3 separate regions of the Homo sapiens genome follow, and regions 2 and 3 are each linked to region 1. The links come from fine-mapping of genetic effects on gene expression. A gene starts in region 1. Each other region holds a variant in brackets. All regions are shown on one strand. Distances are from middle to middle.

Region 1 (5,228 bases):
AAGGAGAGAGGAAAAGAGGTACTGAAAGGGCAAGAGACCATGGAAATGTGGAGAAAGGAAGAAAAAGAACTCGGAGAAGGGAGCTACAAAGAGGGTAAAGGGAGCACTGAATGTATGCGAATAAAGCCTCACACTCCGGTGGTACCACTGAAACATGCACATTTAAACATCAAGGGAAAAACGCAAAAAAGAAAAGAAAAAGCCCACAAAGTACCAGCTGGGTACCAAGAGCCTTCTCTGTGGCTGCTGGGAGCTGTCCGTCTTCCTCTCGGTGCCCTGAAAGACCCTTGGCTCTCACGACCAGCCAGGACTGAACAAACCTAGCCCGACCAAAAACAAATCCTGCATCCACCGGAGTGCAGCGCCTGGCACTCCGCGACTGGGAGGAGAGAAGCGGCCTGAGGGGGGCAGAACACTGATGGGCTTCAGGGCGGTGGGCCGAGGTGGCTCCCCGAGAGCTCCCTCGGGAAACCCCGCTGGCCCGCCTAAGGCTCGGATGGAGGTGGAAGAGGTTCGCGGAGAGACCCGGCCATTGCCGCCCGGGTGCGCTACCTCGGGCGGGCGGCGAGGAGGCTGGAGGGGCTGCTAGCGCGTACCGCAATGTTTTGCCGCATCCCTGTTCCCGGAGCCGGCCGCTCAGCCCCCTCCGCGTCAGGGGCCCAAGCAGCAGCCTGGCGGTCCGTGTAGCGGAGGCGGGGTACCGCGCGGGATGTCGCGGGGGCCTTCAGTCCCGCCGCTCACACATTTCTCCGCGCGCTCCCGTCCCACAAGGGGCAGCTGCCGGAGTTTCAGTGGACCTCTCTAGACCCAGGCGTGCGGTGGGTGAGGAGGAAGAGAGGCCAGATCAGGCCGCCTCGAAGACGTTGGCACTAGGGAGTCACTGACCTGCTTGCCACGGGCAGAGTGACCCTGTGGTTTTGTGGCTGCGAGCGGCGGCCCAGGCTCCCCCTTGCCTGTTCTCCCTCCCTGGCCAGCTACAAAAATCCTGCTCTCACCATGCCAGAAATCAGCTCAACATTTAGGCCCCTTGCAAAGTCGCGCTGGCAGCGCTCGCCTGGCTTTGCAGAGCTTTTAGAGTTACCCACCGGCTCTTCCTCTGGTATTCCTAGTCTTGCCGAGCGCTAGCAATCTCCGACCAACCCGCGGGCCACTGCCCCGAGCCTCAGATCCACGTCTGCGGAAAGTGGCTGCGAGTGGGGTGCAAAAATAAAGCCCAACCCAGCCCAGCGGCCCGACAGCCGGAGCCACCCGAGACCTGTACAACTTGCCCCGCCGCCCTGGCCGCTTGGGGTATGGTGGGGGGGGGGGCGGGCAGCGATGCCAAGGACACCCGGATCCTTTCCGGTCCTCAGCGGCATGAGACCGCGTCGTAGGCAGGCAAGTGGGAGGTGGAGGGCAGGATTAGCCACCTCGGCCACTTTGGCCACTCAACCGGCCCCAAACCAACAGGACCCAAACTAAAAATAATAAGCTACCTGCCCCCTCGGCTCGCGTGCGCGCGCGCGAGATCTCTCTCTCTCTCTCTGTCTCTCTCTCACACACACACACGCACGCACACGCGCTACTGAGCTGAGCGGGGAAGAGGCAGCACGCGTGTCGGTGCAGCTTGTGCAGCCCCCGCTGAAAATTCACCCACCTCTAGAGCCCAGCGTCTGGTGCAGGGCCCGCGGCGCCGTGACCTGCGCTGCTGTTTCCACGATGGTATCTATGTGATTCCGGACAGAGCTCCTCCGCGCCCGCTCGCCCGTCAAACCCACGGAGCAGCCCCAGCAGGCGAGCAGGCGGGCCGGCGGGCAGGCGGGCAGCGGCGCGCGCGCGCACCCGAGCAGACACCGCGCGCGCACCCAGCGCCTAGCACACGGGCTGCACCTTTACATACACGCGCTGAATCCCCGCCCCCGCTCTCCACCACCCCCCCCCACCCCGCACACAAGCAGTCCTTCCTCCCGACACTCGACCACTTTGACCCCCTCACATTCCTGAGCTCCTACCCCCGTCCCCCATCCAGACATGCCCATTTGATTCCTCTTCTACCCACACACCCAGAAAGACAGCGCGCTTTCCTCCCGGCATCCGCCCCCTCTTTTTGCCTAAAACATTCCCTAGGGAGGAGCGACCCCTTTCCTCAGGCGTGGAGACCCCAGTCCTCTAACAAGGGCGCACTCGCCTCCATCCCCCCCACCACATACACACACACTCGAGCCCTTTTCTTCTCTTCCAGTCCCCTAATAACGAAGGAACACACACACACACACACACACACACACACACACACACACACACACACGGGGCATTCCTTTGAGAGAGCAACCAAGAAGCCAGGAAAAGCCAAAGAAACACTGGAGAGCCTGGGGGAGGGGGGCCGAGGGAGATCGATAGGGTCGTCGAGTCTACGCGGAATTGAATAATTACAGGATGGAGGGGAATGAGTCAACAACAATGACATTCAAATGCAACAATCATACTTGGATTTTGTATCACGGGTACGGTACCTTTGGCTAATTGTCACCCCGCAGAACGGAGGGCTCCTGGAATACTTCTCCGTGGCGGTCGATCCTGGAAGGAGCCTTCTTGGGAACCAATTTCCTAGGATCCAGTAGTATTCGCACTCCCCCTACCTGTCTGCGCGTAAGGGGCCAGGGGCTTTAAGGCGAAAGTGTGAGGCTTTAGCCTAAAGTGAGACTATTTAGCCGGGTTAGAAGGAGACGGGTTAATTATCCGCACCTTAGAACTCCGTGGGCCTTTGGTGCAGAATGGGTTAAGCCGGATGATCTTGGAGCTGGGGGTGGGGATAGGGGATAGGGGATAGGGGTTGAGGAAAGAGAGGCGTGGGACTGGGAGAGATGCCGCACTTGCGACCAAAAGAAAAAAAAAAAAAAAAACTACTTTGGCTACTGAGCATGCCCAGTTCCCAGCTCAAGCCCTATAAGGGAGGCATTGTGTGCATTCCACTTCTCCGGGCTTTGGTGGTGACCGGGAGGGGAGTTTGACTGGGGAAGGGGGTGGTAGTTGGGAGACATTAGGGAAAGGGGGTTGGAGAACAAGGTTTGAAGCTTTGGGACTGCTCAGGAGGGACTGTGAAGAGAGAAAGGGAAGGGACCCACGGAGTACCTTCGGGAGACGGGGAGAAGGAGAGGAAATGGACTAAGAAAAGTCACTTCAGTCGCCCCTCATTGTGTATACCAAAGAGGCTTTAGCAGCTGAATCTGAAATATCCAGTGGCTGCAAATCCAACGTGTGGATTGTCTAGGCCCCTTCTTCTACCCTTTTTGTTAGTGCTTCCACAAGAGATAAGAAATATTCTGAGGAAGGGCCAATGTTCAAACCAGTTTCATGCAAATTGATAATTTCGTTAATAAGCTTGTTAAGAAAATAAATAAACCTGGGGGAGGGGAGCAGAGAGGAGTTGGCTATCATGTATGTATTTCAGATACCTGGCTTTCCTAAACAAAAGGCATAAACATTGGATGTGCTCCCATCCCCCAACCTTGCTGTTTTTTGTAGGAGCTTGGCTAAGAAAAACAACTCTCTCTCTCTTCGTGTCTGTGGGAATAAACTAGCTTTAGGTAAGTAGAGCTAAGTTATAAATGGGAAGTATTTCCCTAGGACTCTTGGTAGCCTATTATTTGCCACATTCAGGTAATACTGCCAGGCCCATTTCTTCAGGACCAGTGTGTTGCCCAATTTACTTATTCAAATCCCAGCGGCTCTAGCCACAATAGAGCACAACCGGTATCCAGAAATGTTCTTGCTTAAAAATGAAAAAAAAAATCTTTAAGCTAAAACTAGCAACAGCTTTGAAACCAGAATTTGGCTGTCTGCCTGAACTCCTACAGTTAAACATTTACCATAATTGGTTGATGTTTAAAGGCCCCAAATCTAGGTAGAAACATCTGATGGGCAAAGGATTTATTACATTATTTGTGAATAATGGTCTACCTTCTGTATCATCTATAGTAGTCATTCATATACATGTTTCATTGTTTTTCATTTTTTGTCATTTTATGGGACTTCCGTCAGGTTATATTCACACAAATGTTCACCGGGCACAACATGTATACAGAGATGCACGTACAATATGTAAATGAATACTTAAATAGATATGCGTGTATGGGCATATTTCTTTATGACCTTGCTAAATATTGTGTCGTTCATGAAGAACTCTTTCTCTACCTTCACTCCACATTGCCTTGAAAACTGTAATCATCCTCTCTTTTACAAACAACCTAGAGACAGAAATTGGGCAGCATTGGTAAAATTTATCTTATTCAATGTGAAATCCATTATGAAATAGCATTAAGGAAACACTAAAATATTTGTCTATAACAGCGTATGTAATTGTGCAGCTCCTTTTAGCAAAGTGAATGATGTTTCCTTCATAGGTAACAGCTGCAGAATGTTGAAAAATCCCTCTACTCTTGCACACTTGGACAAAACAGATCCTGCTAATTAATAACTCACATTTGCATTTTATTGTGTAATGCAGTTTGAAAGTAGTAATGGGTATCAAAACAAGTTGGCATTTATTCTAAATGCTAACAATTCAGGAAGCTGAATATATTTTATCCAGATAGGTGAAATGTTTGTCTTTTACTACAAATGTTAACAAGAGTCAATAGAATGAGCAAAAAAAGTTTACCTGAAAATTCTAAGTAATGTGATAACTGAAAAGGCCAGATTTGGACAGTAAATATCAGATGATTTAAATGCCTATCTTTATTCAACTTTAGAAACTGTTCTGAGACTTGGCTATATTTAACTGCAATAACTGTGAAATGTTATTTTTCATATGGATATGGAGACAAATCTGAAAGCCACTGTAGCTAGATCATCGATAAATTACAATTCATAATATTCCTAAGAACTTATCTGTGATTAATATTCAACTTTTTTAAATGAATGCTTTAAAATAAAATGTTTTGCTACTTAAAAAGATAAAGTGGACACTCATAAAATAAAACAGAAGTAACAACTTCCATGTTTTATGCTTATTTTGCTTTCAAAGTAATTAACCCAATCCTTTAGTCCCACAGTCCCTTTTCCGTCCCCTAGAACTACAGGTGACATCCCAATAGAACAGTAGGAAATGACACAGAATTGCTAGCTTAACAAAGGAAGTGAATATATACATAAATAAAAGTGTTAAGAAAACTCCAGCACTATTTATGGCCATTGAAAGAAAAACAAAATTGATGTTCTTCCTAAAATGTAAGCATGCAAATATTGTG
Region 2 (5,228 bases), 56 kb before region 1:
ACTCACGCGATCGTAAGGTGAAGTCCCACAATAGGTAGTCTGCAAGCTGAGGAGCAAGGAAGCCAGTCTGAGTTCCAAACCTCAAAAGTAGGGAAGCCGACAGTGCAGCATTCAGTCTGTGGCCAAAGGCCCGAGAGCCCCTGGCAAACCACTGGTATAGGTCCAAGAGTCCAAAAGTTGAAGAACTTGGAAGTCCAATGTTCGAGGGCAGGAAGCATCCAGCACAGGAGAAAGATGGAGGCCAGAAGACGTAGCTAGTCTAGTCTTTCCACGTATTGTTGCTTTTATCCTAGCCATGTTGGCAACTGATTAGAAGGTGCCCACCCAGATTGAGGGTGGGTCCACCTCTAGCAGTTCACTGACTCAAATGTTAATCTCCTTTGGCACCACCCTCACAGACACACCCAGGAACAATACTTTGCATCCTTTAATACAATCAAGTTGACACTTAATAATAACCATCACAGGTTCAAAGTCCAAGAACACTGTTCTTTGCTCCCATCTGAAATTCGAACCATTTTTCAGGACTTTATTCAAATGCTACCTTTTTAAATAAAACCCCCAACTAAATTAGGAGGTTTGAATCTGGAGTCCATGTGCCTGGGGGATGTAAGAATAAATTTCCAAAGAGTTCTTGAACTCTTTACACTTAAATGCAAAATCATGTGCCCATATTTTTAGGGATAGAATCTTTTCTTTTCATCAGCTTTTTAACGGGAGTCAATGAATAAAAACGTTTCAAAATATCTTCATTGGTTTTGTGAAGAAAGGCAAGTGTTTCTTCTTATCCATCACTTTACCCCTGCTTAGCACAATGCAGTTCAGTAAATGATCACTGAAAGAATATATGTGTCTTCCTCTGAGTCTCCAAGTTGAAATTTCTCTCTTGGTCATTGTGATTCTCAAATCACTTGGTTTAGAAACGTACAAAACGTTCTTCATAGTTGTTATACTAATTTACATTACCACCTACAGTGTCCAAGAGTTCCCTTTTCTCCACATACTTGCTAGCATTTATTATTGCCTGTTTTATGGATATAAGCCATATCCAAGACATTTGGGGTGAAATGATATCTCATTGTAGTTTATATTTGCATTTCTCTGATGCTAATGTTGAGCACATTTTCATATGTCTGTTTGCCATTTGTATGACTTCTTTTGAGAAATATCTATTCAAATATTTTGTCCATCTTTTGATCAGATTATTAGATTTTTTTCTATAGTGCTGTTTAATCTCCTTATATATTCTCGTTATTAATTCCTTGTCAGAAGGGTAGTTGCCAATATTTTCTTCCATTCTGTGGGTTGTCTCTTCACTTTGTTGATTGTAACTTTTGTGCAGAAGCTTTTTAACTTGACGTGATCCCATTTGTCCATATTTGCTTTGGTCCTTCCCACTCTTCCCTCCCTTTTCCAAAGGCAGAGGAGCCACCCCTGGCCACAAGGAGTACTGCCAGACTACCACTGATTTTCCCTTAAGTCTCAAGGTCTCTTAAGTCAGCTTGTGGTGAGTGCTGTCTGTCCTGGGACTCATCCTTCAGGGCAGTGCACTCCCCTCTGTCACAGGGCAGGTCCAGAAATGTCATTCAAGAGTAAACAGTCTTGACTTGCTGCTCTACACCCCTGTGGTGATGTTGGTACTTGAAGCCAGCAAGTCTCAGAGGCTCACCAAAACCCTTGATGTAGCATAGCACCTGGATATTACTGCTGGTTATTCAGAGCCCATGCTAGCAGGACTGGATCCCTTTCTTCAAATAGGTTCTCTTCTGGCCCAGGGTATATCTATAAATATCATCTGGCTGATAGGGCCTGGAATGGGAGCCTCTTGACTCTGACTGGTGCCATATCCTGCTGTGGCTAAGCTGGTATTTCAGGTGCAAGAAACGATCCTCCCCACTCTTCTCTCTACTCTCCTCAAGAGGAAGAAAAGGGTCTTTTTTGGAGCTGTGAGCTGTGCAGCCTGGGATTAGGGGAGGGGTGATGCCAGCACATTTTGCCTGCCAAAGCTGGTGTCACAGTATGTCATGTGGCCTTCTAATCCATTATCTCTAGGCCTAGTTAAGCCCTTGAACTCAC[C/T]TAAGAGTTGCAGTGCTTATGGGCTAGAATGCCTTTCAAGTTTAGTTAGAGACTAAGAGCACTTTGGCCCTGGGTGGCAAGGTTTGCAGGCACTCAAGTTTGAACCACTGGGATTGGAAATTCCCCTCTGGCTAAGGCTGATTTGAATGCTCCCTCTGTGGGCAGGCATCAGCTGAGTTTGGTCTGGTTTTTCTTTTCTGCTCTAACAGAGCAGCACTGAGTTCAATGCTTCACAATTGCTGTGTTCTCCCTCCCCCAGTGCCCAGAGATACTCTCTGTACCAGGATTCCACTGCCAGAGATTGAGGAGGGGTGGCATCAGCAATTCAAGGCTGTTTTTTCTACCTTTTTGGTGCCTCTTTCAGTGATATGAAGCTAAAACCAGGTACTGAGTGCTCACCTTATTTTTGGTTCTTATAAAGGTGTGTTTTCTGAGTAGATAGCTGTTAATCTGATGTCCTTGCTGGGGGAACTATCAGTGAAGCTTTCTATTCCACCATATTCCTCTACCTCCCTTGAATTGGCTTCTTTATGATCATATAGATTGTAAGTTGAGTCAAATTCTTATCTGATTTTAAAAACTTTTATCATGTTCATATTATATTATATTACATTTGGCAGTATTATGTTATAATATGGTGCTGTAGTGTTGTGGGAATCAGAAGACCAGAGAGACCAATGGGTGGAACAGGAGGATTTTATTTAGGTGGCTACTGGCACAGCAGATTCACATCCAAAGGCTGAGCCCTGAACAAACACAGGGCTTGACTTTTATATACACTTCTGAAAGGGAATTGGCTAGTTTTAATGCAGTGGCAGGAAACTGAGGGCACAAAACCTGTGAGGCGGGCAGGCAGGCTTACAGAAGCAGAACAAAGGCAGTTAATCAAACTGTGACAGGTTTTGTAACCTAAGCATAGCTTGTGACCTTACAGCTGCATGGAAGGGAAAACAGGAACTTACAAAACTTGAGACACTGAGTAATGGTAAGGGGGAAGAGGAGATAGTAAAGGAATTTGTTTTTCTTATCCTTGCTCCAGGGAGGGGGAGGGGTTTGTTGGGAGAGTCTCCGGAGCTCATTCCTTTGGGCTCTGGCTTTCCAGATAGTGTTATTGAGACTTTGCCAGGGCCCTGCCTATTGCTGGCCTTGGAGTGAGTCAGCCAAGTATAGGAAAACTTGTTTTTCTCTTTTTAACTTCTGCTTCAATAGCTGTCCCTCAAGATTGTTGGATTGAACTGACTTGAACGGAACTGAATTGAATTTTCAGCATGGGCTGAATCATGGAATCAGCATGGGCTACCAGGCAGTCAGAAACCTTTGCTCAGGTCCAACCATCTCATGTTACAGGTGGGAAAATGGAAACATACAGTGGAGAGTGACTTGCCCAAATTCAGACAGCCAATAAATGGTTAAGCTGAGTTTCTTGCCTCCTGGATAAGTGTTCTTTCTTCCATTATGTTCTGTTCCCCTTTTATTTCCTTGGTTCATGCTGTACTGGAGTGAGATCAATGGGTCAACAAATACAGCTAAATCTCTATAAAAAATTATGCATGTCTTTACAGCATAATTTAGCTCATAACATTTTAAGATACATTTTGACAGCTGGTAATGATTATGGTTATTGATTAGACAATGCATTTTTATGCATCTAATTTTCTACATTTTTAATTTCAAATATTCTTTTAAAAACAGAAGTAGAAATGTGCCAGATCTTATGATAAGTGTAGGCTACTTAATTTGAAGCAATTGCAGTCCCTCATTAGTAATAAATTAAGTATTGAAGAGAGCAGATCACTTTAATGTGTCAAAAAGAGCCTTGTCACTTGACATAATTTGAGAAGTCAACATGTGCATTTTATAATGATCGTCCATATCCAGTATTTCTGATCTAGCTTACTCTCAGTTTCTATTACTCATGGGACTTACCCAAGACACTTGTTGAGTTACAAACAGAGCCAAATATAAAGAACAAAACAGTATCATAACTTGAATCTAAGAATAGTTGGAATGATATTTAGAACTGATCCACATCATGGAACGAAGTGTACCACCAGAAGAAGCTGCATTTGGTTGTGACTGTTTCTGTTACTCCAACATGTCTCTTCAAACCAGACAATTAAAAAATCAATTGTTTTTGTACTGATTTTTACCAAAGCAGTTTCAGTGAAAAACAAATTTTTAAAAATCCTCAACCCTCAAAATACTAATTAAAAGTATCAGTTTAGTTGATTTTTCTTTTGAACATTTTTGACCTAAATGCTTATAAACAGTATCATTTTGTATCTTTTAGTAACTATGGGCAACTGTTGAGTGAGTTCAGTCAATGATTAAATTAGTCATAAAAAATGAGTTTTGATAACGAGAAACAAAAAAGATGGTGAATGGTGAATTTAAGATTAAACCAATATTGACTTGATATAAATACAACAAATCAAGTCTCTCACATCATAAAAGTGTTTGGCTTTCTGTGAGAAATTTACCAAATGCTTTTTTATGATATTTTTACCAAATTTAGAAAAACAGGGAGCGCCAAGCAATTATTTAGCAGAAAGGCTAATAGACATAAATATCATAACAGCATCTTGTAAATGATGAAACTATATCATCAAAAGGAAAAGACAGAAATGCAATATGAGTACAAATATTTATAGGCACAATCTGCCCATTTGACAAGTACTGACTGAGTACCTACTACTCTGAGCAAACCACCAGGACCAGTGGTACACAGGTTGGAAACCTGACTATGGCAGGAGGCACACAGTCCTGCCCTCCAGGAGCTTTCAGTCTGTAGTGGGGAGAGCAGTACAGCACTAGCTGGAATAAAAGGTGTTAAGAGAAAGGAGGGAAAACACAGAATGAGGTCAGGGAAGGGAGAGAACACAATTTCAGCAGAGGAGGTATTTGAAATTGCATAGTGAGTATCTAGAGCTGACACTCCAGTTGAAAAGACTGCCAGTCTCCTGGGCACACTACTCATTCTAATGTAGTGTGATCAGGTTGTGCCAGTGGTGTAAATGGAATAGAAGAAGATCTGGGAAGATGCTTAAAGACAGTCATATGTGAGCTGGACTTAAAAACTAATAAAATATAGTGCTAGAGAAGTAAGTAGGTGCCTAATCATTTAAGGTCTTAAACACCATTTTAAGATATTT
Region 3 (5,228 bases), 740 kb after region 1:
CTATCCCCTTCCTATAGGAAATCAGTTGATTTGAGGGTTTTTTAATTTATTCAGGCAAACAAAAATGGAATTTTGAAAATTGCAGCAAAATTAGCCAGGCATGGTGGCACATGCCTGTAATCCCAGCTACTCGGGAGGCTGAGGCAGGAGAATCGCTTGAACCCCGGAGGTGGAGGTTGCGGTGAGCCAAGATGGCGCCATCGCGCTCCAGCCTGGGCAAAAAGAGCAAAACTCCGTCTAAAAAAAAAAACAAAAAAGAAAATTGCAGAGGGTGATACAGCTCATAACAAGCATAAGAGCACTTTACTTCCCTAGAAACCCCTTATCTAACAAGTTCAATGCTCTGGAACACAGGCAAGAGCCAAAAGTTAGTAAATAAGCCTTATAGTAGTTACAGAATAATATTAAAATGTGAAGACATTTTTATATGGCCCTCTTCTACATGACATTTGTCAGTATCATTTTATTATATTTCTATTGTTTTACTTTTTTAATTTTCATTGTAAGTTTAAGGGTTTGAGTGCAGGTTTGTTTTATAGGTAAAGTCATGTCATGGGGCTTTATTGTACAGACTATTTCATCACCGAGGTATGAAGCCTAGTAGCCATTAGTTATTTTTCCTGATCACCTCCCTCCTCTCACCCCCATCCTGCGTTAGGCCACAGTGTCAGTTATTACCTCTGTGTGTCCATGTGTTCTCATTATTTAGCTCCAACTTATAAGTGAGAACATGTGGCACTTTGTTTTCTGTTCCTGTGTCAGTTTGCTAGGGATAATGGCCTGCAGCTCAATCCATGTTCCTGCAAAGGACATGATCTTATTCTTCTTTTGTGACTACATAGTATTCCATGGTGTATATGTATCACATTTTCTTTATTCAGTCCCCACTGATGAGCATTTAGGTTTCTTTTATGTCTTTGCCATTGCAAATAGTGCTGCAATGAACATACGCATGCATGTGTCTTTATAATTGAACAATTTATATTCCTTTGGCTAAATACCCAGTAATGGGATTCCTGGGTCAAAAAGTAGTTCTGTTTTTAGGTTTTGAGGAATTGCCACACTACTTTTCACAATGGTTTTACTAATTTACACTACTAGCAACAGTGTTTAAGTGGTCCTTTTTCTCCACAACCATGCTAGCACCTGTCATTGTTTGACTTTTCAGTAATAGCCATTTTGACTGGTTTGAGATGGTATCTCATCGTGGTTTTTCTTTGCGTTTCTCTAATGATCAGCGATGTTGAGCTTTTTCTTAAGATGTTCGTTGGCCACATATATGTCTTGTTTTGAAAAATATTTGTTTATGTCCACTGCCCACTTTTTAAGAGGGTTGTATTAGTTGCTTTTTACACTGCTATAAACAATGACCAGAGCCTGGGTAATTTATGAAGAAAAAAGTTTTAATTCACATGCAGTTCCAGAGGGCTTGGGAGGCCTCAGGAAACTTCCAATCAGGTGGAAGGCAAAGGGGAAGCCAGGCACATCTTACATGGTGTCAGGAGAGAGAGAGCACTAAGGGGGAAGTGCCACTTTTAAACCATCAGATCTTGTGAGAACTCACTCACTATCATGAAAACAGCATGGCAGAAACCAACCCCATTATCCAATCACATCCCACCAGGTCCCTCCCTTGACATAGGGATTATAATTTGAGATGAGATTTGGGTGGGGACACGGAGCCAAATCATATCGGGGGTTGCTTGTCCTTTCTCTTATAAATTTGTTTAAGTTCCTTACAGATGCTGAATATTAGACCTTTGTCAGATGCATAGTTTGAAAGAAAAATTTCCCATTCTATGGGTTGTCTGTTTATTCTTTTGATAGTTTCTTTTGTTGTGCAGAAGCTCTTTAGTTTAATTAAATCCCATTTGTTAATTTTTGCTTTTGTTGGATTGCTTTTGTTATCTTTGTCATGAAATCTTTGCCTGTTCCTATGTCCAGAATGGTATTGCTTAAGTTGTCTTCAGGGTTCTTATAGTTTTGTGTTTTACGTTTAAGTCTTTGATCCAATGTGGGTTGATTTTTGTATATAGTGTAAGGAAGTGGTCCAGTTTCAATCTTCTGCATATGGCTAACCAGTTATCCTAGCACCATTTATTTAATAGAGTGTCATTTCCCCATTGCTTGTTTTTGTCAGCTTTGTAGAAGATCAGATGGTTGTAGGTATGCAGCCTTATATCTGGGCTCTCTGTTCGGTTACATTGTTCTATGCGTCTGTTTTTGTAGCAGTATCATGCTCTTTTGGTTACTGTAGTCCTGGAATATAGTGTGAAGTCAGGTAGTGCACTGTCTCCAGCTTTATTCTTTTTGCTTAGAATTGCCTTCACTATTTGGACTCTTTTTTGGTTCCATATGAATTTAATTTCTTTTTCTAGTACTGTGAAGAATCTCAATTGTAGTTTAATAAGAATGGCATTGAATCTATAAATTGCTTTGGGAAGTATGGCCATTATTACAATATTGATTCTTCCTATCCACGAGCATGGAATGTTTTTTAATTTGTTTGTGGCATCTCTGATTTCTTTGAGCAATGGTTTGTAGTTCTGATTGTAGAGATCTTTCACCTTCCTGGTTAGCTGTATTCCTGGGTATTTTTTGTTTTTATGGCAGTTGTGAATGGAATTGTTTTCCTGATTTGGATCTCAGCTTGACTGTTGTTGGCGTATAGGAGTGCTAGTCATTTTTATAGGTTGATTTTCT[C/A]CCCTGAGACTTAGCTTAAGTTATCAGCGGAAGGAGATTTTGGGCCAAGACTATGGGATTTTCTATATATAGAATAATGTTGTCTGGAAAGGGATATAGTGTGACTTAGTAGCTTCCTATTCAGATGCCATTAATTTTTTTTTCTTTTACCTGATTACTCTGTGCAAGACTTCCAATACTATGTTGAATAGGAATAGTGTTCTTCATTTTTATCCATATTCGGATTTCTATTTCTGTCATTTCAGCCATCTCAGCCTGCTTCAGAACCCTTTCTGGAGAAGTGGTGCTGTCATTGGGAGGAAAGAAGTAATGCTGGCTTTTTGAGTTTTCAGAGTTCTTATGCTGGTTCTCTCTCATCTCTGTAGGTTGATGTTCCTTAAATCTGTGAAGTTGCTGTCCTTTGAATATGTTATGTCCATTTTATGACCTTGAGAATTTTATTGTGATATAAGGTGTATTCAGTTGACTGGCTTCATTTCTGGAAGATTTTAGGCAGCTATGGCTCAGGACATAACCGTGTGCTGCATGCTCTGACTCTGGAAACTTGTATTGGGCTCCAATTTTTTTTTCTGGCTCCCTGAGTTTAGAAACCCACTGTGATGGGGATGCTGAAGAGCTGTCAGACTTCTGGTCAAGCACTCTGATGGGTTGTGCTGGGCAAAGAATTTTGTAGGGTGGTGGTAGCAGGATTGGTCCTTGTTCACACATGCCAGCAGCAGTGACAGCCTCACAGTGGCAGGGTGCATGCTCATTGGCTGCAGCAGAGTTGAGCAGATGCTGGGGTTCCTGCCTCTGTGCAGGTGTTCAAAACAGCAATGGAGGCAACACAGCTGGGGGGAGGCAGTGGGGACTCCTATTGGTGACTGTGCGTTCTGTGTGCTTGTGGTGGTGTTAGTACTGGAGCAGGTCACTGGCAAATGCAGATCTGTGTGCATCCTCTGTGAATATTTATGCAGGCAAGGGTGACAGCCCAGGATAGGGGAGGTTCCATTGTTTTCTTTGTCTAGTTTCACTTTGGCTGCAGTGTTGGCACTGGGTGGAGACATTGGCGGGGGCAGTTCTGGTGGCCTTTGTGCCTGCCTTTGTTCTTGTTCACACACGCCAGCAGCAGTGGCAGCATCATTGTGGCAGAGTGCACACTCATTGGCTGCAGCAGGGTGCTAGCAGATGCTGGAGTTCCTGTCTCTGCACAGGTGTTCACAGGAGCAATGGAGGCAGCACAAATTCAACATGGCCAAACTCCATGTTTTGAAAAAACAATTCATAATAAGACTACTCAGTTTTTTAATAAGTTACTAATATGGTTTGGATGTACCCCTGCCCAACCACACCTTAAATTGCAATAATTCTGACATGGCAACAGTGGGGCCAGGTGGAGATAATTGAATCATGGGGGCAGTTTCCCCCATACTGTACTCATGGTAGTAATTAAGTCTCACAAGATCTGATGGTTTTATAAATGGGAGTTCCCCTGCACAAGCTCTCTTGCCTGCCTCCATGTAAGACATGACTTTGCTCCTTATGTGCCATCCACCATGATTGTGAGGCCTCCCCAGTCATGCGTAACAGTGGGTCAATTAAAGCTCTTTCCTTTATAAATTACCCAGTTTTGGCTGCGTCTTTATTAGCAGTGCGAAAACAGACTAATACAGTAAATTGGTATGGGTAAAGTGGGATGCTGCTGGAAGTGACTTTGGAACTGGGTAACAGGCAGAGGTTGGAACAGTTTGGAGGGCTCAGAAGAGGGCAGGAAAATGTAGGAAAGTTTGGAACTTCCTAAAGACTTGTTGAATGGCTTTGGCCAAAATGCTGATAGTGATATGGACAATAAAGTCCAGGCTGAGGTGGTCTTGGATGGAGATGAGGAACTTTTTGGGAACTGGAGCAAAGATGACTCTTGCTATGTTTTAGCAAAGAGACTGGGGGCATTTTGCCCCTGCTCCAGATATTTATGGAAATTTGAACTTGAAAGAAATAATTTATGGCATCTGTCAGAAGAATTTTCTAAGCAGCATAGCATTGAAGAGGTGACTTGGGTACTGTTATAAGCATTCGGTTTTATGTATTCACGAAGATGTGGTTTGGAATTGAAACTTATGTTTAGAAGGGAAGCAGAGCATAAAAGTTTAGAAAATTGGCAACCTGACAATGCAATAGAAAAGAAAAACCCATTATCTGAGGACAAATTCAAGAGAGCTACAGAAATTTGCATAAGTAACTAGGAGCCAAGCATTAATTGCCAAGACAATGGGGAAAATATCTCCAGGGCACTCAGAGGTCTTCCAGGCCATCCCTCTAATCACAAGCTAGGAGGTATAGAAGGAAAAAATGGTTTCGAGGGCTGAGCCCATGGCCTTGCTGCTTTGTGCAGTCTCGGGACTTGGTGCCCTGTGTCCCAGCCATAGCTAAAAGGGGCCAATGTAGAGCTCAGGCCGTTGCTTCCGAGGGTGCAAGGCCCAAGCTTTGGCAGCTTACACTTGGTATTGGGCCTGTGGGTACACAGAAGTCAAAAATTGAGGTTTGGG

Direction of the effects. Alleles are on the strand shown, and positions count from the first base shown. SD is a standard deviation of normalised expression in the study named. Not every link is listed here.
With allele A in place of C in region 3, the expression in esophagus mucosa of the gene that starts at base 2,859 in region 1 is higher (small effect, 0.29 SD a copy in GTEx).

What was found. PIP is the estimated chance that this variant, and not a neighbour inherited with it, causes the effect. A credible set is the group of variants that fine-mapping cannot tell apart.
Region 2: its variant is the best candidate, but not a certain one, in a credible set for the expression of SLITRK4 in whole blood (TOPMed, PIP 0.76).
Region 3: its variant is the best candidate, but not a certain one, in a credible set for the expression of SLITRK4 in esophagus mucosa (GTEx, PIP 0.57).

What each region holds. Positions count from the first base shown.
Region 1 is chrX:143,633,243-143,638,470 of GRCh38, forward strand. SLITRK4 (SLIT and NTRK like family member 4) reads right to left here and starts at 2,859. Exons shown (of 2, transcript NM_001184749.3): 1 at 2,493-2,859.
Region 2 is chrX:143,577,437-143,582,664 of GRCh38, forward strand. No RefSeq gene overlaps it. Among named protein-coding and RNA genes, the nearest start is that of SLITRK4, 56 kb to the right of the region's middle. The variant C/T (reference allele first, on the strand shown) is at 2,077.
Region 3 is chrX:144,375,594-144,380,821 of GRCh38, forward strand. No RefSeq gene overlaps it. Among named protein-coding and RNA genes, the nearest start is that of SPANXN2, 660 kb to the left of the region's middle. The variant C/A (reference allele first, on the strand shown) is at 2,704.